Homo sapiens: one gene and its partners. The protein of the gene in region 2 purifies or fractionates together with the protein of the main gene of each other region. This does not show direct contact. Each region holds a gene or a part of one and is shown on either strand. Other genes may lie near its edges. The genes, in order: ZCRB1, RBM19, NOL10 and NOL12.

What was found.
Region 1: the proteins of RBM19 (region 2) and ZCRB1 purify together in Homo sapiens (affinity purification with mass spectrometry; 2 studies listed by BioGRID and IntAct, with this or other methods). This does not show direct contact.
Region 3: the proteins of RBM19 (region 2) and NOL10 purify together in Homo sapiens (affinity purification with mass spectrometry; 2 studies listed by BioGRID and IntAct, with this or other methods). This does not show direct contact.
Region 4: the proteins of RBM19 (region 2) and NOL12 purify together in Homo sapiens (affinity purification with mass spectrometry; 3 studies listed by BioGRID and IntAct, with this or other methods). This does not show direct contact.

What each region holds. Positions count from the first base shown.
Region 1 is NC_000012.12:42,323,095-42,330,777, reverse strand, and holds the start of ZCRB1 (zinc finger CCHC-type and RNA-binding motif-containing protein 1), read left to right. Parts: upstream 1-4,683; 5' UTR 4,684-4,854; intron 4,855-6,673; 5' UTR 6,674-6,675; coding exon 6,676-6,759; intron 6,760-6,918; exon of another isoform or gene 6,919-7,078; intron 7,079-7,683.
Region 2 is NC_000012.12:113,935,306-113,942,327, reverse strand, and holds part of RBM19 (probable RNA-binding protein 19), read left to right. Parts: coding exon 1-4; intron 5-2,167; coding exon 2,168-2,368; intron 2,369-5,191; coding exon 5,192-5,321; intron 5,322-7,022. UniProt on the Homo sapiens protein: Plays a role in embryo pre-implantation development.
Region 3 is NC_000002.12:10,588,960-10,595,981, reverse strand, and holds part of NOL10 (nucleolar protein 10), read left to right. Parts: intron 1-6,230; coding exon 6,231-6,404; intron 6,405-6,691; coding exon 6,692-6,939; intron 6,940-7,022.
Region 4 is NC_000022.11:37,681,765-37,689,344, reverse strand, and holds the start of NOL12 (nucleolar protein 12), read right to left. Parts: upstream 3,003-7,580; 5' UTR 2,953-3,002; coding exon 2,870-2,952; intron 1,436-2,869; coding exon 1,330-1,435; intron 1,034-1,329; coding exon 985-1,033; intron 496-984; coding exon 353-495; intron 1-352. UniProt on the Homo sapiens protein: Multifunctional RNA binding protein that plays a role in RNA metabolism and DNA maintenance. Participates in the resolution of DNA stress and the maintenance of genome integrity by localizing to sites of DNA insults.

The DNA of each region.
Region 1 (7,683 bases), about 72 Mb from region 2:
AGATTGCACCACTGCACTCCAGCCTGGGTGACAGAGCGAGACTCCATCTCAAAAACAAAAACAAACAAACAAAAAAAGATCTGTACCCTGAACAATTGTTTTGCCTTGAGATGCTGTTAATCTGTAACTTTAGCCCCAACCCTGTGCTCACAGAAACATGTGTTGTATGGTATCAAGGTTTAAGGGATCTAGGGCTGTGCAGGATGTGCCTTGTTAACAACATGTTTACAGGCAGTTTGCTTGGTAAAAGTCATCACCATTCTCCATTCTCGATTAACCAGGGGCACAATGCCCTGCGGAAAGCTGCAGGGACCTCTACCCAGGAAAGCCGGGTATTGTCCAAGGTTTCTCCCCAATGAGACAGCCTGAGATATGGCCTCGTGGGACGAGAAAGACCTGACCGTCCCCCAGCCCGACACCCATGAAGGGTCTGTGCTGAGGAGGATCAGTAAAAGAGGAAGGCCTCTTGCGGTTGAGGTAAGAGGAAGGCCTCTGCCTCCTGCATGCCCCTGGAAACGGAATGTCTCGGTATAAAACCCGATTGTACATTTGTTCTATTCTGAGATAGGAGAAAACCACCCTGTGGCTGGAGGCGAGATATGCTGGTGGCAATGCTGCTCTGTTATTCTTTACTACACTGAGATGCTTGGGTGGAGAGAAGCATAAATCTGGCCTATGTGCACATCCAGGCATAGTACCTTCCCTTGAACTTATTTGTGACACAGATTCCTTTGCTCACGTTTTCTTGCTGACCTTCTCCCCACTATCACCCTGTTCTCCTGCCGCATTCCCCTTGCTGAGACAGTGCAAATAGTAAACAATAAATACTGAGGGAACTCACAGACTGGTGCCGGTGCAGGTCCTCCATATGCTAAGTGTTGGTCTCCTGGGCCCACTGTTCTTTCTCTATACTTTGTCTCTGTGTCTTATTTCTTTTCTCAGTCTCTCGTCCCACCTGACGAGAAACACCCACAGGTGTGGAGGGGCAGGCCACCCTTCATCCAGGTATCTGTGGAATTAACTTTCCTGCCCTTCAATGTCACCTTCTTAATGTCACTTATAACAGATCCCCCAATCGTGCTATCTTTAATTAGCACTAATAATCTAAGATACCACATAATGTACTTTTAATACACATTAGTCCCTCACTAGTAATATTTCTACTAGTAGTATTTCTAGTAGTGAGGGTTTAATCTGTATTAAAAGTACACTATATAGTATCTTAGATTATTAATGCTAATAATAATAAAAAGCAGGAATGTCTATTTGTTCACTGATGAATATTAAGCTCCTAGAACAATTTGCACACTGTGCTCAGTATTCAGAGTGAATTAATATTCTAATGTTTCTATTAGAAAATATTTGAAATTCCAGGCCGGGCGCGGTGGCTCACGCTTGTAATCCCAGCACTTTGGGAGGCCGAGGGGGGCGGATCACGAAGTCAGGAGATCGAGACCATACTGGCTAACACGGTGAAACCCCATCTCTACTAAAAATACAAAAACAAAATTAGCCGGGGGCGGTGGTGGGCGCCTGTAGTCCCAGCTACTCGGAAGGCTGAGGCAGGAGAATGGCATGAACCCGGGAGGGGGAGCTTGCAGTGAGCCAAGATCGCGCCACTGCACTCCAGCCTGGGTGACAGAGTGAGACTCCGTCACACACACACACAAAAAAAAAAAAAAATTGAAATTCCAGACAACTAAACATAAATTTTAGAACATAATTAGTTAAGGTCATTGAAAAAAAAAAATTAACTGATGCTGGGGCTGGGTGCGGTGGCTCATGCCCGTAATCCCACCATTTTGGGAGGCTGAGCCTGGCGGATCATTTGAGGTTGAGAGTTCAAGATCAGTCTGGCCAACATAGTAATACCCCGTCTCCACTTAAAAAATATACAAAAATTAACCAGGCATGGTGGGACATGCCTGTAATTCCAGCTACTCAGGAAGTTGAGGCAGGAGAATCCCTTGAACCTGGGAGATGGAGGTTGCAGTGAGCCATGATCGTGCCACTGCACTCCAGCCTGGGCAACAGAGCAAGACACCGTCTCAAAAAATAAAAAAATAAAAAGTACTGCATTCTCTACTAGTTTCACAAGTCACTTGACTTTCCAACGCTTTAAGGATACTTCTTTTATAAGCCCGAATGTACTGCACTAAACTTAGTAGGAGATCCCTGATTGTCCATTATAATTGATCAATTAACTGAAATTACACAAGTAAACAAAAATGCCAGATGTCTGCCTACATATAATATTTATAAATCTGAATTTTATTTCATATATGGATGGAAGTTAAGGCCTTAACCGGTCAGCCTCCTTCCAGTGTTTTACCCTCCATTTTACCCTAAAAAAGGATAATCAACTGTTAACGCATATTCATAATGTGAAGTTTCCAGGATCAAGAATCCAAGAGGTTTTTTATTAACCATAATAAATCCAAACTTCTATCTTCCATATGCCTCCTTCTATTATATCTAACCTTCTATTCTCTCCAAAAGCATATAATTATGCCTGTTTCCTTACTGTGCCACAAACAGACTAACACATACTACCACGGAGCTGTTTATTTTCCAAACGGGATATCTTTTTCCATTCTCTCATTCAACATCCAACGGTCCATCAAGGCCCAACTCAAAACCTATTATTCTCCACAAAGCCCATTATATAAACCCTACAAGACTTAAAACAGATTCCAAACTAGTGACTGATAGGCCATATGAGACTTGTGTTTGACCCACTTTTTTTTTTTTAATAAAATTCTATTCCACTGACAACATTTAAAAACTGGGAGAGGATGCTTTTTAAAAAATGGTATTTCCAACTTTTTTTGAAAAAATTAGATGTTCTGGCAAAACTGGGATCATATTCTCACATAGCCACAATCAGCTGTAGCTGAGTGGCAGGTGACCCCTTCTAAGGGTGAAGTATTCATTAACGTTAACTGCCTGATCTCTGCAGCATACCTTCAGCACCTGCAATCATTCAAGAAATAACTGACTGTCTTATGTGCCAAGAACTGTATTAGCTACTGGAGTTACAAAGATAAACGAGACAAACACAGTCCCTCACCGACAGTCTCGCTTAGTAGGGATGGCAAAGAAGCAATTAAGATACATGTGATAAATGCCGTGAGGGAAGTGCAGGACAGCTAAGAGTACATAGCAAAAATACCTAACTCTATGGAAGTTAGGGTATACCCCTCAAGTAAAGTGACAGCTAAACTCAGATCTTTAATAGAAGTTATCCAGAAAAAGATAGGAGGAAACAGGGAGCTCAAATGTCCCAGAGAGAGAAAAGAGCCTTTGTGAAGATACTGAGGGAAGAAAGTATTCTGAGGAATTGAAATCCGTTCAACATGGCTACAGCCATGCCCAACCTTTAAATGCAGGGTCAGAGAAAGGGCTCAACTGAAATGGCTGGCAGGAAAATCTACGTGTTATCAATAGTTAAGGTTAGGAGATGAAGGAGAATTTCACTAAAGAAGTTGAATATGTAAAATAGTTTAAGCAGGAAATAGAGGTTTCAGAAAGCACAGATGGGGTGTTGAGGGGTTAAATGGGGAAGAAACGAAGAAGCAGTGATAGCCTAAGTCGAAAGAAAGCACAAAGCAGCATGGAAATGAGACTATAGCACAGAAGACCACAGAAGCTTACATCTTGGGCGGTAACCAAGGATAACAGAGATGTAAAGCATGGTAAGTTTGGCTGGCCACAAGTATGCCTAGAGAATTAGTGCCAGCGGTCTCCTGTCGGCCACGGAGGCATTCAGGCCTCTCAAAATTCAGCTGCGCCCTGGATGGATTGTACTTCCGTCTCTATAGAAGACATCGGCTTCACTCTGGATTGATTGTGCAGGCTCCAGGAGAGGCTGTGGGTTCCAGGCTGCTGGAACGCAGGCTCCCAGGGAGTGGTTAGAGGCCTGGTCTGTATGTGCTGGTAGGCAGAAGTATAAATTACCTTGCATTACGTTCTGATTTTTCTGTAGGAATGGTGGGCATGTTATGGCCTCTTAGAGAAAAAGCAGTGCGTAGCCATTATAGATTTACAGGAAGAGAAAAGGTGCCAAGAAGATCAACACTTGTCCATACCCATACTAAAGATGAGTCATTCTGTGAATCCAACTCTCCCCAAGTTGACCTCGTCTCCCCAACTAGACTGAGATCTTCACCAGAAAACAAAACAAAACAAAACATAAAAGGTCTGTTTATTTTGTAGTTCCCAAAGTGCCTAATAGCTGGGTACCGTGAACACCTTCAGTAAAATTACCGACTTCCTGACTCCTCTCGGGTCACTGAAGTTACCTAGCTCAGTCGTCTTCTTGCATATTAAGGCGCTACAGAGAGGCGAACCCCTATCTTAGACTCAATACTTCCCTTTATTCCAAACTCCACTGCGTCTCTCCACCCTCAACCGCATGGGCAGAATTGTCACACAATTCAAAGGCAGGAGAATCCAGGACCCGACACAGAAAACTCCCGCCCACTCCCCCCCGTTTAGCAGCCCGCACACGCTCTGCATCCATCTCTGGGAAAGGTAAAAAGCGCTCACCGACTCTGGCCCTCCGGGAGACCCCGTAAATGCAGCCGTCCGCTCGCCGCCGTTATCCCAGGTAGGTACTTCCGGCGCGCGCAATGACGTTAGCGAAGCGCTCGCCTCTGGGCCCGCCTTCGGGGCCCGGATCTCAAACAGTCGGGAAGAAGCACCGTGGCTGCTATTATCTGCTCTCCGCGCCTGACCCCTCCCAGGACTCGTGATGCCAAGGCCGCTGCGAGCGGCTACGAAGAGTCGGGGTTGAGCCCCAGCTGAGCCGAGGGCTCGCACTCTTCTGGTCTCCCAGGCCCAACCCACCTGAAGGTAAACGCCTCCTCAGCTGCGGCCTTCTCTCCTGCGGGGCCCCCTCCCCAGACTCGGCTGCCAAAACGCTCTGCCCCTCTCTCCCGCCACCCTTTTTATTCCAGGACCTTAACCTCTGCCTGCCTTCGCGGCTCTCAGCAGAACGTGTAACGCATAGTTTCAAATGAGAAACTTAAAAAGCGACGTATCTATGTTGAGTTCCTGAAGTTTTCTAAATAATTCCCCCATAACACCAAACATGAGGCAGTTTTCTCATTCCTTCACGAATTGGCATGCCATAGAGTCAGTATTTTTCCATTTGTGATGGTTGATCTTCCCATCTCAAATACACACCGCACGCTCTTTTTAAATCAGAAATTTGAATTTGGTTGAGCCTGATATTTTCACGGTAATTTGCTGACTTTGTAAGATAAGATGTGAAAATTACTGATTACATTTGTAAACTTTATATACATATACACACATACCTACAGGTCTGTCTCTTCGAGGCACCAAGCCTATTTATATAATGTATCATTTCATAATTTGGCAATAAGCAAAATTAGCGTTTCGAAAGAAGTTTATATTGTCGATACATAAAGCTTAAATTTACTCCTTAACATCATACTAAAAGGGGAAAAGAAAATTTTCCTCTTAACACACCACTCCAGAGAAAAAAAATATTAAGACAAGCAAAAAAGGTACCCAGCCATAGTACAGGCATGCACAGCATAACAACTTTTTGATTAACAACAAACCACATATACCACAGTGGTCTCCTAAGAGTGTAATACATTGTACCATATTTTTAGTGTACGTTTTCTGTGTTTAGCTATGTAAATATTTACCATTGTGTTTCAACTGTCTACATTATTCACTACATTAACATGCTGTACAGGTTGTAGCCTAGGAGCAATAGGCTAGACCATCTAGGTTTGTCTCAGTACACCCTGTGATGTCTGCACTGTGAAATCACGTAACACTCAGAACATACCTCCTTCATTAAGCATAGCATGACTGTGTATTAGCAAAAATCAGTGGCTAAGGTTCTGTCTGAGTCCCCATGCTCTTTCTGACCTGGGTGAGCAAGGTGCAGGTAATGTACATATACAGTACATATTCAATAGAGCATTTTTTTTGCTCATGGTCTGAGTGGAAGTTAGGAGTAGCCTCAGGGTTTTTCCTTCATCTGTTCAAAACCCGTCTCCCTACCCATACAATCTGGCACTGAAAGTGTTGGTATAAAGAATACTTGAAAGAAGAAGAACCAAAAAAGAATTTTTTTTAAGTGGTGACTGGGAAAAAGGAATTCCTTAATTCAGCCTGCTGGAGTCATTGTTCCTAACTTCCTAAAATGTAAGGAAGGTGTACACATCTGGCATAATTAAATCGGTGATTGTTAATACTTTATTGGTTTTTGTTTTTTGTTTTTTTCCAAATAATACCCAGACTGGTCTGATGTATTGGTTTTATTTGGAATTAATAATACTTGGTTTAGGCCAGGTGTGGTGATTCATGCCTGTAATCCCAGCACTTTGGGAGGCTGAGGCAGGTGGATCATTTGAGGTCAGGAGTTCAAGACCAGCCTGACCAACATGGTGAAACACTGTCTCTACTAAAAATACAAAATTAGCCAGGCATGGTAGTGGATGCCTATAATCCCAGCTACTCGGGAGGCTGAGGCAGGATAATTGCTTGAACCTGGGAAGCAGAGGTTGCAGTGAGCCGAGATCACGCCATTGCACCCCAGCCTGGGCAACAAGAGGGAAACTCCGTCTCAAACAACAAAAAAAGAATCCTGGTTTAGACTGATTGCTGATAAGTTTGTTTTCACTTTTAGAAATGAGTGGTGGATTGGCTCCAAGTAAGAGCACAGTGTATGTATCCAACTTGCCTTTTTCCCTGACAAACAATGACTTGTACCGGGTAAGTAAATCTTATCGAGTGACTGCTATTTGAGATACAGATAACCTTAAGCAAATAGTTCTCCCTGGCAAATTCTTTTTTCCTTTTTTTTTTTTTCTTTTTTTGAGACAGTCTAATTCTGTCACTGAGGCACGAGGCTGTAGTGCAGTGGCACTATCATGGCTCACTGCAGCCTCCCCGCCCCCTCAGGTGATCCTCCCACCTCATCCTCCCAAGTAGCTGGGAATACAGGTGTGTGCCACCATGCCTCTACAAGCTACCTGGGAGACTGAGGTTGGAAGATTGCTTGAGCCTAGGAGGTCGAGGCGACAGTGAGCCAAGGTCACACCACTGCACTCCAGCCTGGGTGACAGAATGAGACCCTGTCTCAAAAAAAAAAAAGAAAAAAAAATAGAAGCTATATTTATTGAACATTTAAGTCAAATTATGTGTTAGATACTAAGGAGATGCTAAGATGTTAGGTGCTAAGGAGAAAAAATAACGCAGGAAAGGTGGGCTATTGAACGTTAAGTTGGGAATGGAAGTGAAATTTTACATAGGGCGGTCAGAAATGCCATTATTGAGAAGGTGACTTTTGAATAAAGACCTGAAACGAGTAAGAGGCACCTGTGCAAATTCTAGAGGACAAACATTTCAGAAAAAGAGGGGTAATCTTAGGTAAGCCCACTCGAGGTGCCTTATACGACCTATTTACATCATGGTAAGGACTCTGGCTTTCACTCTGCATGAAACAAGAAGCCATTAGTAAGTATTATATAGAAGACTGTACTGGCCTTCAGAACCCAGTGTTGCTAACACTGCTATCCAGTTATTTTACATTCCAGCATTATACAGCTTAATCATAGAACGAAAAAATTCGTTATTATTGGTTGCATATACTAACACATTCTAAAAGACTTTTTATATAATAGGAACTCTTAGTAT
Region 2 (7,022 bases):
CCAGGTGGGTGTTCTCGGTGGCGCCAGCCAGCCAGCAGCCACTGGAGAGTCGAGAATGGCCTTTCCAGGGGAGATGCAGATGGATTTAAGGATCTGGCCTTCTAAGGACTATTACTGATTTCTAAATTGTCTCTAAAGAAAAGAAGAAATGTTACATGGGCTGAGACAAGTGGCCTATCTGACCCTGATTCTGTCTGTCCAGAGCCATGTACAAGAGGTCTGCCTACAACCCCACAGTTCCCCCACACAGATCGGCACCCCCAACATCTCACTCCCCTACCCAGTGGCTTCCCAGAGCATCTGTTATCTGTTCGGGGACTTTGACCCTTCTTGAACCTAGCAGGGAAGAGTCCAGCACCTCCATGTGCCTGTTCTCCAGCAAGTAGCAGGTCTTAGATTTATGGATGACTGCAGCTTAGAGGGCCCCTAAGACATCATGAGACCCCTTCATTTTACAATCTGGGATACCAACGCTCAGAGTGGGGAGGTGACTTACAAGGTCAAACAGTCTATATGTGAGAGGAGCCTGGACTAAAACTCAGGGCTTCTGACTCCCAAAACAGCCCTTTCAACAGCCTTCCCAGGCCTCACATTTTTACCTCAAGATGGATGAGGAGGATGGATGAATGAAGATGTATGGGGGATGGGTGGATGGATGGATGGATGGATGGATGGAGGATGAATATGGATGGTGGATGAATGGATGGCTTGATGGTTGGATGGATGGATGGATGGATGGATGGTGGATGAATACAGATGATGCATGGATGGATGGGTAGATAGATGGATAAAATAAATATACTAATAGCTAACATTTATTAAGACTTACCAAAGCACTCTTCTAAGTTTACATGTTTAATTAGCTCATTTCATTCACATGGCCACTCTGTGAAAGCAGCTCTACTGTGCTTCCACCCTACAGAAGGAACCACAGTCACAGAGGGGTGAAGTCACTTCACAGCTAGTCATGGTGGAGCTGAGTTTGAACACAGGCCTTCTGGCCCCAGAGTCTGTCTCTCTAACTGTAACACTGCGGCCTGAGTTGCACCTAAAAGGCCCACAGGTGCCCAGCCTTTCCCACCTGCAGATGGTTTTCACTCCCCTCACCTCACTCAATCCTCATAGTAACCTTGTGTGGCCTCTATAAGATGGGTGTGACTGTTAGCCCATTTTGCAGATGAGAAAAATTGAGGCCCACAGAAACAAGGTAATTGACCCAAGGTCTCAGGTTACATTAGCGGCTGAGCTAAGACTTATTCCCAGATAGGCCATATGCCTAGATTTTTCCATTATATTTTATTGGCTCTTTTATCCTCCTCCAACATTATTTTTTAATAAAATTATTGCTAACGTTTTCAGAGTGCTCATATTACATGTACTTTTACTAACCCATTTAATGAAAACTTTTCCTGGAGCGATCCTGTGAAATAAATGCTCTGTCCTTGCTGTCGCTGCGGGAGCTGAGGCACAGTTAAGTACATTTCTCAAGGCTGAATAGCTTAGTCTTTTAGTTTTGGTTCTCCCAGAAGCAGATTCTGAGACAAGGATTCAAGGGCAAACAGTTTTGGGGGCAGTGCAGAAAACTCTGGTGAGAAAGGGATGCAGGGAAGGGAAGGAGCCCAGGGTGCAGAGTGTGCTGCTGCAGTACGCTGCCCTGTGGCTGCCTGGAGCTCTGCCTAGGGGAAAGCCTGCAGCACTCATACCTCAGTCTCATCCCACCCAAGGACAAGGAGTGCAGCAACTCCTGAGAGCTGTGGGCTGCTCCCAGGGGGCGTTAGCTCTGCAGCACGTCCTGCTGGCTGCACGTGGTAGCAGGTGGGCGGTCTGTAGTTCAGGAAAAAAAGCCTTGGTACTGAGATGCAGACCCCAGCCACTGGAAGCCTTGGAAAGTGCGGCCCTGCTCAGGAGTGGAGGAGGGGCTGGGATTTGATCCAGAAGCTCCAGCTTCAGAGTCCCAGGCCTTACCCCCTCTGCAGAGCTGCCTTGCAGCCTTGCAGGGAGCATCATGCCAGAGAGGGTCGTTCCTCCTGGGTCTTCCTCCTAAGTGCCTGGTTGCTGAGGTTCCAAATGGAGAGCCTTGTCTGGAGAGCCCCACGATCCCTGCTGGTGTCAGCTGGGGACCCTCCTCCCTCCTGTGGTCCCATGTGTGTGCATTTCCTCTTTGCAGGCTGCAGCAGAGCGAAGCAAGACTGTGATTCTGGTCAAGAACCTCCCGGCAGGCACCCTGGCGGCCCAGCTGCAGGAGACCTTCGGCCATTTTGGCAGCCTGGGCCGCGTGCTGCTGCCAGAGGGCGGAATCACTGCCATCGTGGAGTTCCTGGAGCCCCTGGAGGCCCGCAAGGCCTTCAGGCATCTGGCCTATTCCAAGGTAGGGCTGCTGGAGACCCAGAATTGATCTGGAGAAGGACCAGTGAGGGCTGCTTCAAGGGAGAGGGTGCAGTGGGCTATGGATTCACAGATGTGGCACATGGGAGCTCACCCTAAACCGCCCGTCACGATCATGGCTGAATATCATCCCTGCCGCCTGAAAACCTGTCTGGATGGGAAGAATGGGAGACGGAAGTTCTTTTTTTTTTTTGAGACAGAGTCTTGCTCTGTCACCCAGGCTGGAGTGCAGTGGCGCGATCTCTGCTCACTGCAAGCTCCGCCTCCCGGGTTCACGCCATTCTCCTGCCTCAGCCTCCCAAGTAGCTGGGACTACAGGCACCCGCCACCCCGCCTGGCTAATTTTTTTATATTTTTGGTAGAGACGGGGTTTCACCGTGTTCACCAGGATGGTCTCGATCTCCTGACCTCGTGATCCGCCCGCCTCAGCCTCCCAAAGTGCTGGGATTACAGGCGTGAGCCACTGCGCCGGGCCGGGAGAAGGGAGTTCTGAACCATCCTCCAGAAAGCATGCCTTGGTTCCTTGCCTGACTCTAGCTTTTCTTTGGCTTTCTTTACCCATGTTAATTTGGATTAGCATTTTAATTTTAATTAAATGTGTTCATTATTTTTTTGAAAAAGTATTTATTTATTTTGAAAGACAGGGTCTCGCTCTGCCACCCAGGCTACAGTGCAGTGGCGCCATCTTGGTTCGCTGCAGCCTTGAACTCTGGGGCTCAAGCAATCCTCCCACCTCAGCCTCCCATGTAGCTGAGACTACAGGCATGCACCACCACGCCTGGCTAATTTTTTGATTTTTTGTAGAGACAAAGGTCTCCCTATTTTGCCCAAGAATGAGCATTCTTGATGCTTTTGTAATCCTGTAGCTACAATGAGATGAATGAAAGTCAGTTCTGTAGGTGGGGCTGTCTCCTGGTTCTTGGTTTAGAAAAAAGCCAACAGTTGTGTATTAGTTTGCTGGCTGTGGCTGTCATAACAAATTATTACAAGCTAGTTGGCTTGAAACAACAGAAATAGATCATCCCACGGTTCCGAAGGCCACAGTCTGAAATCAAGGTGTCAGCAGGGTTGTGCTTCCTCTGAAGGCTCTAGGGAGTCTGATCTGTGTCTCTTCCAGCTTCTGGTGGCTCCAGGCATCCCTGGCCCATGGCTGCATCACTCCAGTTTCTCCCTTCATCCTCACTTGGCTTTTCCTCTTCTCTCAGTCTTCCTCCCTGTTTCTCTTATAAGGACACTTGTCATTGGATTTAGGCTCTGCCGGGATAATGCAAGATGATCTCATCTCAAAATCTTTCACTTAATGAAATTTGCAAAGATCCTTTTTCCAAATAAGGGCGCGTTCACAGGTTTCTAGGGGTTCAAGATATAGACATACCCTTGCGGTGCCACTACAAGTATTTTCTGTTTATAAGACACTTTAGCACTTCGCAGACCTTGGTCTCCCTCAGCAATTCTTAGAGATAGATATTCATGTCCCCCCCAGCAATTCTTAGAGATAGGTATTCATATGCCCCCCAGCAATTCTTAGAGATAGATATTCATGTCCCCATTTTGCTGGTGAGGAAATGATTTCTCATTCTCTGCCACTTTAACCCCGTAATAGTCTTTAGCTTGGGACTCTGTGGCCACTAAGCTCTCAGGAAGTCAGTCTGCGCCTGACCCATAAGAAAAATTATCTAGGTGGGGCCCCATGACTGAGATGTGAGCATCCTTTGGAATGTGACACCATCCTTTCTTCCTTCTGCTTTGGGAGGACATGCCAGTCACCAAAAGCTCTCTCTGTGTGAGCCACAGTTGGAGAACACTGACTAGGTGAGGCCTCCTGTTTTGGGCAGTGTCTGTTTCACCGACAAGAAGACTGCTGTCTTCATTTTGCACATATGGAAACTGATGCCCAGAGAGGTGCCCTGACCCACGATCACACAGCTAAGTAGTGATGCAGCCTGCTGTCTGCACACCAATCTGTTTCACTCTGAAGCATGTGTATTTCTCTGAAAATAACTGATTTGCAAGGCTTTCATGGAGTAGGAAATTTGAAAAGATTCAAAAAGGGCATTTGTTGACAAGTCTCACTCCCACCCCTGTCCTGCAGCTCCCCAGTAACCGCCTAATGAGGCAGGTGTCATCAGTGTCTTGTTTATCACCCGCCTGCCCAGGGCCCCTCTTTTTTTTTTTTTTTTTTTTTTTAAGAGGCAGGATTTCCCTGGAGTGCAGTGGCAGAATCCTAGCTCACTGCAGCCTCAAACTCCTGAGCTCAAGGGATCCTCCCACCTCAGCTTCCTGAGTAGCTAGGACTACAGGTGTGTGCCACCATGCCCAGCTATCCTTTTAAAAAAATAACATCTGCATGCACACATATGCACACGTATACAGGTGTTGCCCGTGGATATATGCACATAGAGAGAAAGTGTGTTCTCTTAACGGGTATTTTACACTTCCTCCTGGAGAGCTGCACTTTACCAGTGATGTGGTCGCTCCTCGTCCCACTCCCATCTAAAGTATGAAACTTTAGAGTTTCATACTCTGATTGGAAAAAACACAAAGGGGGCCTGGGAGCTGCCATATGTCTGGTGGCAACAGAGACTAAAGCCTCTCTCCTGCACCCTGAGATGCAGCATGGGGGCCGAATGTTGTCCTCAGGGAGTAGACAGCAGTCAGGGCTCTGGGCTGGGCTCCTTCCGGCTCCATTCTTGGGTGAGTTGCCCATCCTCTGTGACCCTTGGGCTGTGATCTGCATGGGACTGAGTCCCTCCCCAGCAGTGTGTTGTAATGAAGACCCACAGGGCCATCACTCTTGTCTCTGCAGTTCCATCATGTCCCCCTCTATCTGGAGTGGGCTCCAGTTGGCGTCTTCTCCAGCACAGCCCCACAGAAGAAAAAGCTCCAAGACACACCTTCAGAACCCATGGAAAAGGACCCAGCAGAGCCAGAAACAGGTAAGAGCTGAGTCTGAGACCAGGATGGCTTGGGATCCTGGTGAGGGAAAGGAGGAGGGTTGGGGGCAGCGTGAAGTTTCTTATCAAGCCTCTGGTTTAAAGCTCTTTGTTCATGCTAGAGACCAGCAGGGCTCAGACTCTCAGATTTTATGGGCATGTCCTGTAAAAAACAGTGTCAAAATTATGGATGCAATATGCTTTTAGTTTGTCAATTAAAGCTTTTAGGGGAAAAAAATTACTATCTATTAACAAGGATTCAAAGCAGAGCAAGTATAAACAACCTTCCTGTTTCAGAGATGGACCAGAATGGCTCATGGAGGAGGGTGGCTGGTATGGGAGATACTTATTCTCATGTCCTTGGAGTGGCAGTGCCCTCTGATGTCCAGTGACTGCAAAGACAGGAAAGGAAGGGGAAGCCGTGGCCCCTGGGGGCCAGATAGGGCAACCCCCACCCCCTGGCTAATGCTTCCTAGCTGGGAAAAGGGGTATCATTGGGCTTTGGGACTGGACAGTACTTTCTTGTCAGGACTGCTTTGCAAATCACAAGACATTTCACATCCCTGGCCTGTGCCTCTGAGTGTCACGAGTGCCCCCAGTCCTTGTGACAACCTGGAACACCCCCACGCATTCCTAGATGCCCACAGCGGGCAGTGTATCCCCCGCATCGAGGACCTCATAGTCTAAGGACCATGACCACATCTTAGAAGCCAAGACCAACAGGACCATGGTCATTCTATCCAGATGTTACGATTTTCCTTGTCAGTAATAACCACTCACCTATACACACCCACAATACAGCAACCAGTTGTTTAACTTATTAAAATAAGGATGTTAAAAAAAATAATAATAAGTCCTCAGCTACTCTCTCCTTTGTTCTCATTTTTTTTTAAAGGACATTTCATAGTTAAAAAAAAATGGGGAGGAACACTGTCAGATTTAAGAGTTGTTTTTTTTGTTTTGTTTTGTTTTGTTTTTTTGAGACAGAGCCTTGCTCTGTTGCCCAGGCTGGAGTGCGCGATCTTGGCTCACTGCAACCTCTGCCTCCTGGGTTGAAGCAATTCTCCTGCCTCAGCCTCCCGAGTAGCTGGGACTACAGGCGCCCACCACCACGCCTGGCTAATTTTTTTGTATTTTTGGTAGAGACGGGGTTTCACCATATTGGCCAGGCTGGTCTGGAATTCCTGGCCTCAAGTGATCTGCCTGCCTCAGCCTCCCAAAGTGCTGGGATTACAGGCATAAGCCACCACGCCCAGTCTAAGATTTTAGTGGAATAGACTTTGCTGTACCTAACCTCCCCTGCCTTGTCCACATTTCTCATTTCCTTGTTTCACTGTGTATCTTCAGGACTGGCTCAGCCAGCGCAAGGCATTCAGGAAGTGCCTGTCTGGAGGCCTGTTTCAATCAGGAAACAAAATCCTTCAGTCCCTTTGCGATCTGAGGACCCAGAAGCATCCCACATCGTTGGGGTTAATGATGATTGGTGTAAACCTTGTGAAAGCCCGACTCCTGCTCGTTTATGAGTTAAGCTCTCTCCACTCAGTTTGGATCAGGGTCTCCTTCAAAACCTGTGCCTGTTCCCATCAAAACAAAATTCTCTTCATGTCATCCTGGCTTGTTCTTAACTGTCTCCCCCAAATCACAGCTGCCTTGATTTTTACTTCAGTTACCACCCTTGAACCTAAGTAATGTTTTTTTTTTTTG
Region 3 (7,022 bases), on a different chromosome or scaffold from region 2:
TTTTTGTTTTTTTTAAATTACAGTTATACATGCATAGTTTTAAAAACTAAACATTTCAGTCTGGGCACAGTGCCTAACACAAACATTATGGGCTCACACCTGTAATCCCAGCACTTCGGGAGGCCAAGGCAGGCAGATCACTTGAGGCCAGGAGTTTGAGACCACTCTGGCCAACACAGTGAAACCCCATTTCTACTAAAAATAGAAAAACTAGTTGGGTGTGGTGGTGCGTACCTGTAATCCCAGCTACTTGGGAGGCTGAGGCAGGAGAATTGCTTGAACCTGGGAGGCAGAGGTTGCAGTGAGCCAAGATCACGCCATTGCACTCTAGCCTGGGCAACAGAGCAAGACTCCATCTCAAAAAACAAACAAACAAACAAAAACAAAACAAAACAAAAAAACATTTCTGTAATCCCATCATTTTGGGAGGCCAAGGCAGGGAGGATCACTTGAGCCCAGGAGTTCAAGACCAGCCTGGGCAACATGGTGAAACCGCATCTCTACAAAACATTAGCTGGGTGTAGTGGTGCATGCCTGTGGTCCCAGCTACTCAGGAGGCTGAGGTGGGAGGATCTCCCTGCAAGGCCGCAGTTAGCCATGGTTGTGCCACTGCACTCCAGCCCAGTAACAGAGTGAGACTCTGTCAAAAACAAAAACAAAAAAAACCTAAACATTTCTCCAAGGTTTGTTAGGAATGTAGGCCATCCCATTGTCTGCCCCTTTTCCTCCCTCTGCCTTCCTCCATTTTCACCTCTTCTCAGACAACCACTTTTGCCTTTTTTGCTGATTATTTTGGTATAAATCTCTCTCTCTCTCTCTCTCTCTCTCTCTCTCTCTGCCCCCTCCCCCTCCCTCCCTCTTGCCTGTAGTCCTACCTCTTAACTTTTTAGTGTTAGGCATTATCTTTTGATAACTTTCCTTTCCAAGGAAGCTATATTGTGATTTTGATTAAGTTGGTATTCAGCATTACATTGTTGTACTTTTGTTTTTTGAGATAGAGCCTGTTACCCAGGCTGGAGTACAGTGGCAGAATCATAGCTTACTGCAGCCTCAGTCTCTCGGGCTTAAGTGATCCTCTCACCTCAGCCTCTCAAGTAGCTGGGATTACAGGTGCACACCACACCCAGCTAATATATATGTATGTATATATTTTAGTAGAGCTGAGGTCTCACTGTGTTGTCCGGGCTGGTCTCCAACTCCTGAGCTCAAGAGATCCTCCCACCTCAGCCTCCCAAAGTGTTGGGATTACAGGCACGAGCCACCATGCCTGGCCTACGTAAGTGCTATTTCCAGCCGAGTCAGTAGTAATCTGTGACTGCATTTCTTGTTCAATCTTTGTGTACTTTGAAGTTAATAATTGTCTCTCTTGCTCGTTTTCTATGTAGTTATCACTAATCAACACCCAATTCTATGTCAGTTCTCTAAGTCTTATTTTGAGGTGTTTAGATAGGTTAGACTTATGCTTATTTACCTTCCTGAAGAAGTTGCTTCTAGAATTTTCTGCCCCATTCCATTCTAGCCTGGTCACCTTCTAATCCCGGGACCTCCCTTTACCATTATCCTGGGGATTCACTTCACCTCAGCCCATGTTGGACAGAGAATTACAAGAACCTTCAGTTTCCTGAAGGAATATAGTTTCCAACCTAGGCAAGCAGTCAGTCAATGTGAGGGTATGGTAGATATTTTCAGACATGCAAGTTCTCAACAACAACCAATTCCCCTTAAATGCTGCTTTTCCTCGGGAAGTTGCTAGGGGAGTTGTTTCTCTAAAATAACAGTGTAAGCCCAGGAAGAGGAAGCGTCCTGGGAAACCTGACACGAAGCGACTGTACTGTGCTGCAAGCCCATCTCAGTCTAGAAGTTCGGTCTTCAGTGCTGGGGAATTTTCTTGAAAGAAAATTTCAATTAGTTTTTCCTGCCATGATCCATAGTTATTTTTTGGCAGTGAGGAATAAGAGAGTTAAAAAACTGAATGAAAACTCTAGGTGGGGACAGGGTCCCTCAGTCAGTGTGCAGTGACTTGGCCACACTGTTTGGGGAAGGACACTGCACATGTCATTGTCTCTTAGGTCTTTCTCTTGGCTGGTCAGGTCCTCCTGCTTGGGGGGGTAAAGGCCTGGCTACCAGCATTCCTAGAACTGACCACTGTAGGTCACAAGAGGTTGGAGGGGTCCAGAGGGCACCTCACCCCCATGTGCCAGCCTTGCCCTCCCCTCCTTGTGGCCAGCACACCTCTCTTGCTCTTGCAGTGCCAGCCTCAGCCAAGCAACTTCTCCGTGGGAAAGGGCTGGGGCCAGGCTTTCCAGAGCTGGGGTGTGATTTTTAAATAGGCTTTCTTTCTGGCTTCCAAATTTTTATTACCCCTATTTCCTTTCCTTTTTTTCTTAAGGGTTTATGCCCTTTTTATAAAGCTCCTTTTCTGTTGTTCTAGTGAAGTTTTAGGAGAGATTAGAAGATACTAGTGTTCAAGCCACCATCTTTACTCAGAAGTCTGTACCAGCCTAACTTCATAGGTATCATAGCATTGAAAGAACTAATTTGATTGGCCGGGGTGCAGTGGCTCACGCCTGTAATCCCAGCACTTTGGAAGGCCGAGGCAGGCGAATCACCAGGTCAGAAGTTTGAGACCAGCCTGACCAACTGGTGAAACCCCGTCTCTACTAAAAACACAAAAATTAGCCGGCCGTGGTGGCGCGTGCCTGTAATCCCAGCTACTCCAGGAGGCTGAGGCAGGAGAATCGCTTGAACCCGGGAGGCAGAGGTTGCAGTGAGCCGAGATCACACCACTGCACTCCAGCCTGCGTGACAGAGCAAGACCCCATCTCAAAAGAAAAAAAAGAAAAAAAAAAAAACTAATTTGTTTCAAATGGCAATCATTCTTCATATATGTTACTATGTTGGAACAAAATAATAATAGGCGTCCCACTCAGGTAGACAGATACCATTCTTCCAGGTAGGACTGTGGTATGAATAGTACTTTAATGTTTTCTATATTTTAATGGTAAAGTTGAGCATGTGTAGACGGGTATTTATAGGACGGATCACTAGCCAGACACTTGTAAGCTCCTATAGAACATTAATAGCTATACCTTATCCTACTTTTTTCCTTAAGACAGCTGTGAAAACAAACAGACTAGGAAAAAACCCTGAGGGAAATATTTTTACAAGCTGGGTCAGAAGAGGTTTTATTTTATAGTTGTTCATCCAAAGCATACTTGTCTTTAGGCAATGCAATTGATTTGTTTTAAATTAAGAAAAAAATCTTAATACCAGCAACATATGTAGTCTTTGTAACATTTTCTCTATTTATTAAATATGATTATTACTTTAATAAATATAGTAAGATGAAAAGTAAATATTTGCCCTTGGGTTTTTTTAACCTGAAAATGTGTAATAGGCACATAGTTATTCATTTGAAATTATCTTTCACACTATCATCTATCCGATATCTACAGATAACTCCAAAATTTACATCATAGCCCCCTCCCTTCTCCTGAGACATGGCGCATCGTTCCCAGACACCTAGTGGTGTCCGTCTGAATCCTGGTGCTCTTCTCCCTGTGCCACAGGCATAGGCAGCCCTAAATGGAGCGTGATTTCTTCCCCTTTACTCCACCCCTGCGTTTTTTCCTAATGCTCTCCAGTGATGGATTCTAACTCAGTGTCGCCAGCTTTCTGGTTGCTTAAGCTACATGTTTGAGAGAAGTTTCTAACCCTGTTTTTAATTCTTAACCCTCCCATCTCCATAGCTGGATCTGTCAATTCTAATTTAGAACTGTATCTCGTAATTATTCTTTCTTAAAAACTGTCTGTTCCCATTGCCCTAATTCAGGCCCTGTCTCTCTTGCCAGTTTCTTAAAATGGCTTCTTAGTCTTCTCATGATGCTAACTTCTTACTCAGCAGTCCGTCAGACATCAGGCTGCTGCAGACTTTTGAAGCACAATTTTGGGTTGGTTTGTTTGTTTGTTTGTTTGTTTGTTTGTGACAAGGTCTCTCTGTTACGCAGGCTGGAGTACATGGTGTGATCTCAACTCACTGCAGCCCTGACTTCCCAGGCTCAAGCGATCCTCCTACCTCAGCCTTCCAAGTAGCTGGGACTACAGGCATGCACCACCACGCCTGACTAATTTTTTATATTTTGTATAGACAGCGTCTCACCATGTTGCCCAGGCTGGTCTTGAACTTCTGGCCTCAAGCAGTCCTCCCACCTCAGCCTCCCAAAGTGCTGAGATTGCAGGCATGAACCACCACCTGGCCAGTTCTGTCATCTGGGAGTCTTGAAGCACACTTCTGTTGATCATCCATCTTCTCCTTCCTCCCTCCTTCCCTGTCTCCCTCCTTCGTTTCTCTTCCTTTTTCTCTTCCTCTTCTTCCTCCCCCTCCTCCTCTTCGCTAGTGGTTTCCCCTTATATCTTCAAAATAACAGTCATGGTATTTAAAATCCTTTACAGTATGACCCAATCAAAAAATTGTTTTGAAATTGCATCATTCTTATGTCGCCAGACTATTCACCACTCCCATCGGCTGGAAATGCTGTTTCTTCAGATTTCTACTTGTTGAAACCTACTCATCTTTCAAGCCCCCTCCCTGATGCTGCACCCCCCAGGGCCCCTCCTGGGGTGTCTTTTGTTGGGATTCCTTTTTCTGTCCTCTCCTGTGGCACTTTCAGCACTACCGAGCAGCCCTCAGAAGAGGCCTAGTAGCACGTGTTTGCAGTGTTTTTTCTTCCTTACTAGTTTAGGATCAGGAACTCGATCTTACCTTTCTTTTTCCCTTCGTTGTAAGTCTTTCTTGGAAATGATGTTTAATCAGGGAAACTTGCTGCATTTAATATCTTAGAATTTTAGGTAAGGGTTTATCTGTTTTTAGGTACATACAAATAATAAACAGGCCAAGTTCCTTAATATCTTATGATTTACTAAACTTTTGTATAGGTCTGTCACACAAATAATATTCAGAACTCAACTGCCTGCAATCTTGTTTACTCTCAACAGTGGAGAAATAGTAAAGTAGTCTGTTCAGCAGAGTCAGAGTCCATCACAAACAGGTCAGCTTTTTCCAGCAGTGTTCAGGGCTGTTTACTCTGATTGACAAACAATTCTGAGTAAGCCGTTTCATCTGGCTTCCAAGCCTGTAGCAGAGAAGGAACAATAAGACAGTCCTAAATGTGTAAGATTCTCTGTCATCTACTTAAGTGAACAGGTAAGTTTACAGTACAGTTTAGAAAACTTTCCATTGAAAATGGTACAAATAAAAAGGAATTTAGTATCAGTCCTGAGCTATCTAAATGGGTCTCAGTAGCCAAAGTTTTTGTATCTGAAGGATACACAATATCCTTTGACAACAATTAGTTGACCTGAGGGGGAATATTGATGAAACAACCCTGTAGGGGATGGAAACGTCCCTTCTGTTTCCCAGTAACTCAGCTGGAATCGGTAAACTGACATCACCAGCTTCCTGCATCCCACCATGTGAGTTACTGACTTTGTATACCTCCTCTCCCAGTTTTGGAATCTGAAGTTGAAAGAATTGCTTATTTTAAGTCAGTGTAGTAACTAAGCTTTATTTAAAAGCCCTGTTTTCAGTGGCTCATGCCTGTAATCCCAGTACTATGGGAGGCCAAGGCACGAGAAATTGCTTGAGCCCAAGAATTCAAGACCATCCTGGGCAACATAGTGAGACCCATCTCTACAAAAAATAAAAAATTAGCCGGGTGCGGTGGTGCACCTGTGGTCCCAGCTACTTGGGAGCCTGACTGAGGTGGGAGGATCACTTGAGCCCAGGAGGTTGGGGCTGCAGTGAGCTGTGATTGTGCCACTGCACTCCAGCCTGGAGTGAGACCGTATCTCTAAAAAATAATAAAAGCCACTTTTTAAAAACCTAGTATCTTCTTGAAAGGTGTTTTTTTGCATTAAAATGTTAATTGAAGAAATTCTTTCTAATCTGTTAAGCATAAAGTTAGCCAAAAGGGTCATTCTTGGCTCATTGTGTGTAATGGCCAAGTGGTGTAGAGCATCTGCAAAGTAGATTAATAGAGGTTGTTTTGGTGGTGGCAGCTAAAACCTAGGGGCACGTTGAAAGTCCTGGAAGAAATTTCATAATGAGTTAATAATGTATGCCTCATGCCGCTTATTAACTTATAATAGAATCAGTGTTTTAAAACCATGTTTCTGGTCAAATTTTAGTCAGATATTAACTTAAATTTTTACGTACTTTTTCCTCCTTGTAGAGTCTTCCTAATATTCTCACCGATGATCGATTTAAAGTTATGTTTGAGAACCCTGACTTCCAAGTAGATGAAGAGAGTGAAGAATTTAGGCTTCTGAATCCACTTGTTTCAAAAATTAGTGAAAAAAGGAAGAAGAAACTAAGACTCTTAGAGCAACAAGAACTTCGTGAAAAAGTAATGTACTCCTTATCAGTTAGAATTTGCTACTGTTTCTTTAATGTAATGTTTTCTTTGTAAGTTAGAAGAGTCTTTGATTATACTTGAGATGTAATTAATTCCATATTAAGTGTTTGACATTGGGCTTAGGAGTATTATCTTATTTATTTAAAGGCATTTCTCCTGATGCATGCAGTAGAGCAGCTGTTAGGCACTCATTAATGGGCCAGTGCTGCTTCAGAGAAACCAAGGGGTCTGTGTTTGACTGGGGGAAAGGAGTTGCTGCTTACTATTTTTATTCTCAGGAAGAGGAGGAAGAGCCGGAAGGAAAACCAAGTGATGCAGAAAGTTCGGAGAGTTCAGATGATGAAAAAGCCTGGGTTGAAGAGGTCAGGAAGCAACGCAGACTCCTCCAGCAGGAGGAAAAAGTGAAGCGGCAGGAACGACTCAAGGAGGACCAGCAGACAGTCCTAAAGCCCCAGTTTTATGAGATCAAAGCAGGAGAAGAATTTAGAAGCTTCAAAGATTCTGCCACAAAGCAGAAACTGATGAAGTGAGTAGCACTGCCTGAGCGCACAGTTGACATGTAACCAAGCCCTTGCTTTTCCTCTCTGGCACATTGCCCTAAAGATGACA
Region 4 (7,580 bases), on a different chromosome or scaffold from region 2:
ACCAATCCCACAAGGCAGGTGCCACCATCAGCAACCCCCAGTTCACTGATGGAGAAAGGGAAGCAGGCAAGGTGAAGGAGCCTGCCCAAGCTCCTCAGCCGCTCAGCAGTGGGGCTGGTCTTTGCAGCACCCCGGAAGCAGGGAATGAAGGGTCCAAAGGGAAGGAGCCCCAGCAGTGGGGTACCCACAACATGGGCCAGCACTGAGCAACCCCGACAAGCCAGTCTGCCCCCACGCCCCTTCTTCCCAGGGCTGGCAGTGGGATACCCATGACATGGGCCAGCACTGAGCAACCCTGACAAGCTGGTCTGCCCCCACGCCCCTTCCTCCCAGGGCTGAGACTGGGACCCACCTCAGGTGGGGTCAGCCCGAGCAGCCGGGCCCCCGAGAGGTCCAGGTCACTGATGGTGGTCACGGTGACTGTGTGGTTGGGGTGGTCATACTGCACCGACTCCGTCTTTGCTGTCACCAACCGGTCCAGCTCATCTGCCTCCTCTGTGGGGGTGGACACAGACCTGGTCTCAGTCACGGGAACGAGTGACCAGGCTCCAGCCTCCCTCCCGCCCTGGAGTGCAGTGCCCCCTCTACTCTGTGGACGTGGAGCGCATCCACAAGGTCACTGGCTGTAGAGCCTGGTCTGTGGATGAATGTTGTGAATGATCCCGTTTCCTTCATGCTCTAGCTGGTCCCCATGTCAGACAAACCCTCTGTGACAGCTACTGCTGTCCCTCCCCTCCACCCCTAGTCCTTTCCATCCTTAAAAACTGGGCTCTCTTCTCAGGCTTGGTTAACCATGGGGTTTGGGACTCCTTCTCCTGGTCTCTGTTCCACTTGCACTTAGAGGTGCTTAGGACCACCCCTGGCCCCAGGGTACCCCCCAAGATCCCTAGGGCCAAGGAGGTCAGCTTCTATCCCTTCCACCCACCAAGGGTATAAACCAGGCCCATCAGCTGTTCTCCAGGTCAGGCCAAGCATGCCACTTACCCAGAGCCTCTTCTCTCTCTGCCAGCATCTTCAAGTATTCCTGGTGGCGCTGAAACCACACAGGCAGGGAACACAGTGAGTATGGCCTCTCAGTCCAACCTCAGGCTGGGGTATTAATCACCCCCAGGGTGAGGGAGACCATGATCCATACTGCAAGATCAGGAGGAGACTCCATCTTCCATCACTCCCAGACCCGGGCCCACAGAGTCTCCACCTGTATAAACTATTCCCCAGTCCTGCCCACACACACATCGCCCCATGCCAGCAGCTGCCTCTATTAGGGAAATCCAAGGCTGCAAGTGCCCTAAGAATCAAAGACCTCCCTCCCACCTTCCCCCTGCGTACCTCCTCCCGAAGCTTCCTCTGCTCCTCTTTCAGCCGCTGCTTAATCTCCTCAATGGCTGCCTTCTTTCGCTCGACCTTCCGCTTGTGGAAGCCTGTCAGGTACTCCCTACAGGAAGGAAGCCGGCAGAGACAGGAGAGTCATTATACAAGGAGAGAAGGGCTCGCTCTAGGAGAAAAATGGCTAATGCCGCGCTCACTATGTGCTAGGCACCATTCCAAAAAAGTGTAAGTATTAGCTCATTTAACCTTCACAACAATGGCCAGGCATGGTGGCTCACGCCTGTAATCCCAGTACTTTGGAAGGTCGAGGTGGGAAGATCACATGACGCCAGGAGTTCAAGACCAGCCTGGCAAACATGGTGAAACTCCGTGTCTACTAAAAACACAAAAATTAGCTGGGCTTGGTGGCGCATGCCTGCAGTCCCAGCTACTTGGGAGGCTGAGCGGGGAGAATTGCTTGAACCTGGGAGGCGGAGGTTGCAGTGAGCCGAGATCATGCCACTGCACTCCAGCCTGGACGACACAGACTCCATCTCAAAAACAAACAAAAAACCCTCACAATAACCTGTGCGGTGGGTATCAATCTCCATTTTACAGATGGGAACGTTGAGTCACAGAGTCTAGGTTACTTGCCCAAGGTTAGAGAAAGGATACATTTAGGAAAATAAGGGAGATACTGCCTCTTTCCACTCAATACTCTCCAGGGATCTCAGGTTCAGGCAACAGGGCCAGGCTGTGGGGCGGGTGGGGGGGGGGGCCACACACAGTACATGAGGTAACCCCTTCCACACCTACAAACCTCATTACTCTCTCAACAGGGTTTTCAGGGCCACCACCATCCAGACCTTCGGAAACCCTGCACTGGACCAACACCCATGTCCCCAGGACACCTGACCCTAAACTCGCCTGTAGGGCCTGTTGATGCACGCTAGGAGTTTCCTGATGATGCCCAGCATTTCCCTACCTCCTTCCCTCGGTCTAATCTCAGCCCCTTCTCATCTCCACAGTGCTAGCTGCTCTGTTCCCATTTTGTCCCACGGTCCAGCACTGGGCTTTTCGCTGACCCGCTACCATGTGCCATTTATTTATCTGGCCAGACGCTGAGGCTCAGAGGTTCTGCTTCCTGATACGGGACCTGGCACACCAAAGGAGCCCAATAAATGTCTAGGGAGCGAATGAATGAACTTAAGCCACTCTCATTTCATTGGCTCATCATTTATCAACCACGGCTGGGCGCCTGCTGTGTGCCGGACCGATGGACTGGGCTGGGCTAGGGTGGTCGAAGCCACTGCTCTGAGACCCGAGCTTCCGGCTATCTGGCGGCGCACAGACACTAGGCGAGGTGGGGAGGTCAAGAAGGGAGAAGGTGGCGGCCGAGAAGGGAGAAGCGGGAACGCGGGCTGGAAGGCCGAGAGGGGTTCTCTAGCCACGCCAGGGGGCGGGACCGGAAGAGCCCCCGGCGGGAGCGTGCTCGGCCCCAGACCTGGCCTTGGCCGCGAAGAACAGCTCGAGGGGAGTCCGGTCCGGCTTTGCCACTCACCGCCTCTTCTCCTCGTCGAAGCTAAGAACGAGCCTCGGCCGCCGGTCGTCACCATCTCGCTTCTTCTTCTTGTTGCGGCCCATAGCAGTGAGGCCGCCGGCTTCCTCTCCCTGAAGACACTTCCGGGTGTAGCGTACTCATCCTCCCGGGCGCACACTTTAGCGTCGCACCGAAGTTCCGTCCACCAGGCCCAGCCTTTTAAAGGGACCTCCCAGCTCCTTTTCTTCCCTCTTCCCATGCATGACGCGCTGGTCCCTGATCTCTCCGTGACTCCCAGCTCCAGCCCCTCCCCAGCCTCGCTTCAATGAGAGCGAGGTCCCCTGGACCCCACTGCCTAGGACTGTGCCTGGCACACACTCAATATGGAGTTACTCGTGAATGGCCCAAATTTCCTGTACTAACCCTACTTTGGATATTTTTTTCCTTTAATTTATTATTATTGCTTTTGAGATGGAGTCTCGCTCTGTCGTCCAGGCTGGAGTTCAGTGGCGGATGTCGGTTCATTGCAATCCCTGCCTCCCAGGTTCAAGCAATTCTCCGCCTCAGCCTCCTGAGTAACTGGGATTACAGGTGTGCGCCACCATACTCCCTAATTTTTGCATTTTTAGTAGAGACAAGTTTTCACCATGTTGACCAGACTGCTTGAACTCCTGACCGCAAGTGGTCCTCCCATCTCGGCCTCCCAAAGTGCCGGGATTACAGGCGTGAGCCACCGTGCTGGCCCCTACTTTAGATGCTGATGTCAACTCGTTGGTAGTCTCCAAGAGGGAGCCAAACTGCCTGGATTTGTATACTGGCATCACACCTACAGCTGTGTGGTCCCAGACCAATGGTCTTCGCGGTGCCTCACCCTATTTGTAAAATAAGGGAAAGTATAGTAGCTTCGTAGGGTTGTTGTAGACACTGGTTCTGGAACTTTGGCATACATCAGAATCCCCTAGAGGGCTAAAAACCTGGATCGCTGGGCCCCACCCCGGAGTTTCTGATCCGATAGAGGTTTCTGAGTGGATTTCCGTTTCTAGCAGGTTCTCAGGTGATGCTAATGCTGCTGGTCCGTGGACTAAACCTTGACAGCTGTGATTGTGAGGAAGTTAATTATGTAAAGTTTGTCTAACATAAGGCACGCATACATGTGTTTTCTGCACAAGCCATCTTCCCTCTTTGTGCCTCACTTTGCCCAAAGGTGGAATGAGTGTATAATAACATCCTTGACTGAGAATGAGGGCATGGTTGTGAAAGATTGCAGTGAAACAACGCCTGAAGGGGATTTTTAGTCACTTGGATTGTATGCCAGAATCCTTCATCCGCTTTTTTTTTTTTTTTTTCTGAGACAGAGTTTCGCTCTTGTCACCCAGGCTGGAGTGCAGTGTTGTGATCTCGGCTCACTGCAGTCTCCGCCTCCCAGGTTCAAGCAATTCTCCTGCCTCAGCCTCCTGAGTAGCTAGGATTACTGGCACCTGCCAGCACGCCCAGCTGATCTTTGTACCCTGACTCTGAGTTTTGGAAGGAGGCAGGCAGTAAGTGCAGCACTCCAGAATGCTGAATTCATTCCATACAGCTCCTCTGCTTGGGAAATCTATGTGGGATCCTGAGAGGAAGTTACCTTTTTTTTTTTGAGACGGAGTTTCACTCTTGTTGCCCAGGCTGGAGTGCAATGGCACGATCTCGGCTCACTGCAACCTCCGCCTCCCAGGTTCAAGCGATTCTCCTTCCTTAGCCTCCCTAGTAGCTGGGATTATAGGCATGTGCCACCATGCCCGGCTAATTTTGTATTTTTAGTAGAGATGGGGTTTCTCCGTGTTGGTCAGGCTGGTCTCAAACTCCTGACCTCAGGTGATCCACCCACCTCGGCCTCCCAAAGTGCTGGGATTACAGGCGTGAGCCACCGCGCCCAGCTGGAAGTTACCCTTAAACTACAGGCCTGGCCTTTCAGTTCTGTGGCCCAGAGCAATGCAGGGGGCTCCCTTAGGGTGCTGGACTGCACCTCTGACCAGCTGCTTCTGCCCCTTAGTGGCAGTGCCTTAAAGCCACCCTTGGCACCTTCCTGGGTAGAGGCATCACCCTGGCTGAAGGTGCCCAGAGAGTCACCTTCTGCAGCTGGTCTGTCTCCTCCCAGTCCCAGGCTTCGACCTGCTTGGTTTGCCAGGGCTCCACTCCCACCCAGAGTGGTTGGAGATGAAAAGTGAAGGCTCAAGCCGGGCGCGGTGACTCACACCTGTAATCCCAGCACTTTGGAAGGCTGAGGCGGGAGGATCACGAGGTCAAGAGATCGAGACCATCCTGGCCAACATGGTGAAACCCCATGTCTACTAAAAATACAAAAATTAGCTGGGCATGGTGGCACACGCCTGTAGTCCCAGCTACTTGGGAGGCTGAGGCAGAAGAATCACTTGAACCCGGGAGGGTTGCAGTGAGCCGAGATTGCGCTGCTGCACCCCAGCCTGGCGACAGACAGTAGAGCAACATAGTAAGACCCTGTCTCTACAAAAAATTAAAAATTAGCCAGGCGTGGTGACATACTCCTATAGTCCAGCGACTTGGGAGGCTGAGGTGGGAGGATCACTCAAGCTCAGAAGTTTGAGGCTGCACTGCAGCTGTGATCATGCCACTGCATTCCACCCTGGGTGACAGAGTGAGACCCCATCTCTGAAAAAAAAAAAGAAAAAAAAAAAAAACAGGCCAGGCGCAGTGGCTCATGCCTGTAATCCTAGCATTTTGGGAGGCCAAGGTGGGTGGATCAATTGAGGTTCGGAGTTCCAGACCAGCCTGACCAACATGATGAAACCCCATCTCTATTAAAAATATGACAATTAGCCGGGCGTGGTGGTGCATGCCTGTAATCCCAGCTACTCGAGAGGCTGAGCTACTCGAGTAATCACTTGAACCCAGGAGACAGAGGTTGCAGTGAGCCGAGATCCCGCCACTTCACTCTAGCCTGGTCAAAAGAGCAAAACTCTGTCTCAAAACAAAAAACAAAAACAATAAGAAAAGAAGTGATGATAAACTTAATGAGGAAAAAGAGTAACAAGAGCAGCTGACATTTATTTAGCTCTTTACTCTCTTTAGATTATTGATTTTATTATTTATTTATTTATTTATTTATAGAGATGAGGGTCTCACTATGTTGCCCAAGCTGGTCTCAAACTCCTGGGCTCAAGCGATCCTCCCCATTCAGCTTCAGGAGTAGCTGGAACCACAGGTGCCCACCACTGTGCCTGGCTTATGATGATCTCTTTTGAGGTACAATCCACATTTTACTGAGGAGGAAACTGAGGCTCAGAGAGGTGCAGTCACTTGTCTGAGGTCACACAGGCAAAAACAGGTGCTGAGGGTGGGGCGCAGGTGGCCTAAGGACAGAGATTGACTTAACTTATCTGGACCTAGTTTCCTAGGCCCTTGGGACACACCAAGCCTTAAAAGGGGTGAAGGGAACCAACACTCACCGAGCCCCTATTGCGTGCCAGGCACCATGCATTTCTATACATCACCTCAGCTAATCTTTTTTTTTTTTTTTTTTTTTTGAGACGGAGTCTTGCTGTGTCGCCCAGGCTGGAATGCAGTGGCATGATCTCGGTTCACTGCAACCTCCTCTTCCCGGGATCAAGTGATTTTCCTGCCTCAGCCTCCCCAGTAGCTGGGACTACAGGCATGCACCACCATGCCCGGCTAATTTTTGTATTTTTAGTAAAGACGGGGTTTCACTTGTTGGCCAGGCTGGTCTCAAACTCCTGACCTCAAATGAATCTCCTGCCTCAGCCTCCCAAAGTGCTGGGATTACGGGTGTGACCCACCACACCCAGCCAATACTAGTGCAGTCTTTTTTTTTTTTTGAGATGGAGTCTCGCTCTGTCACCCAGGCTGGAGTGCAATGGCGCAATATCGGCTCACTGCAACCTCTGCCTTCCGGGCTCAGGCGATTCTCCTGCCTTAGCCTCTTGAGTAGCTGGGATTACAGGCACGCGCCACTGCGCCCGGCTAATTTTTTTTTTTTTTTTTTTTTTGAGACGGAGTCTCGCTCTGTCGCCCAGGCTGGAGTGCAGTGGCGGGATCTCGGCTCACTGCAAGCTCCGCCTCCCGGGTTCACGCCATTCTCCTGCCTCAGCCTACCAAGTAGCTGGGATTACAGGCATGCACCACCATGCCCGGCTAATTTTTTATATTTTTAGTAGAGACGGGGTTTCTCCATGTTGGTCAGGCTGGTCTCGAACTCCCGACCTCAGGTGATCCACCCGCCTCGGCCTCCCAAAGTGCTGGGATTTACAGACGTGAGCCACCATGCCCGGCCTAATTTTTGTATTTTTAGTAGAGACGGGGTTTCGCCATGTTGCCCGGGCTGGTCTCGAACTCCTGACCTTAGGTCATCCACCCACCTCGGCCTCCCAAAGTGCTGGGATTACAGGCGTGGGCCAGCGTGCCTGGCCAACTAGTGCAGTCTTAACAAAGTTTGCCAGATGAGGAAACTGAGGTTCAGAGACGTTGAATAACTGGTCCAAGGGCACACAGCCACAGAGCTGGGGTTTAAACACAGGTCTGTCTGACGCTGAGCCGGGCTTCCTTCCTCCACACCCAGTGGCCTCTCTTACCTGCCCCAGGACTTTCCTCTGCCCGGTTGTGGCCCCAGTCCTAGTGTCCTGTGAGTGTCAGCCAGTGTAGGGGAGAATCAATGTGGGTGAACTGAGGACAAGGCAGGGCAGCCTGGGGGACGTGTTCT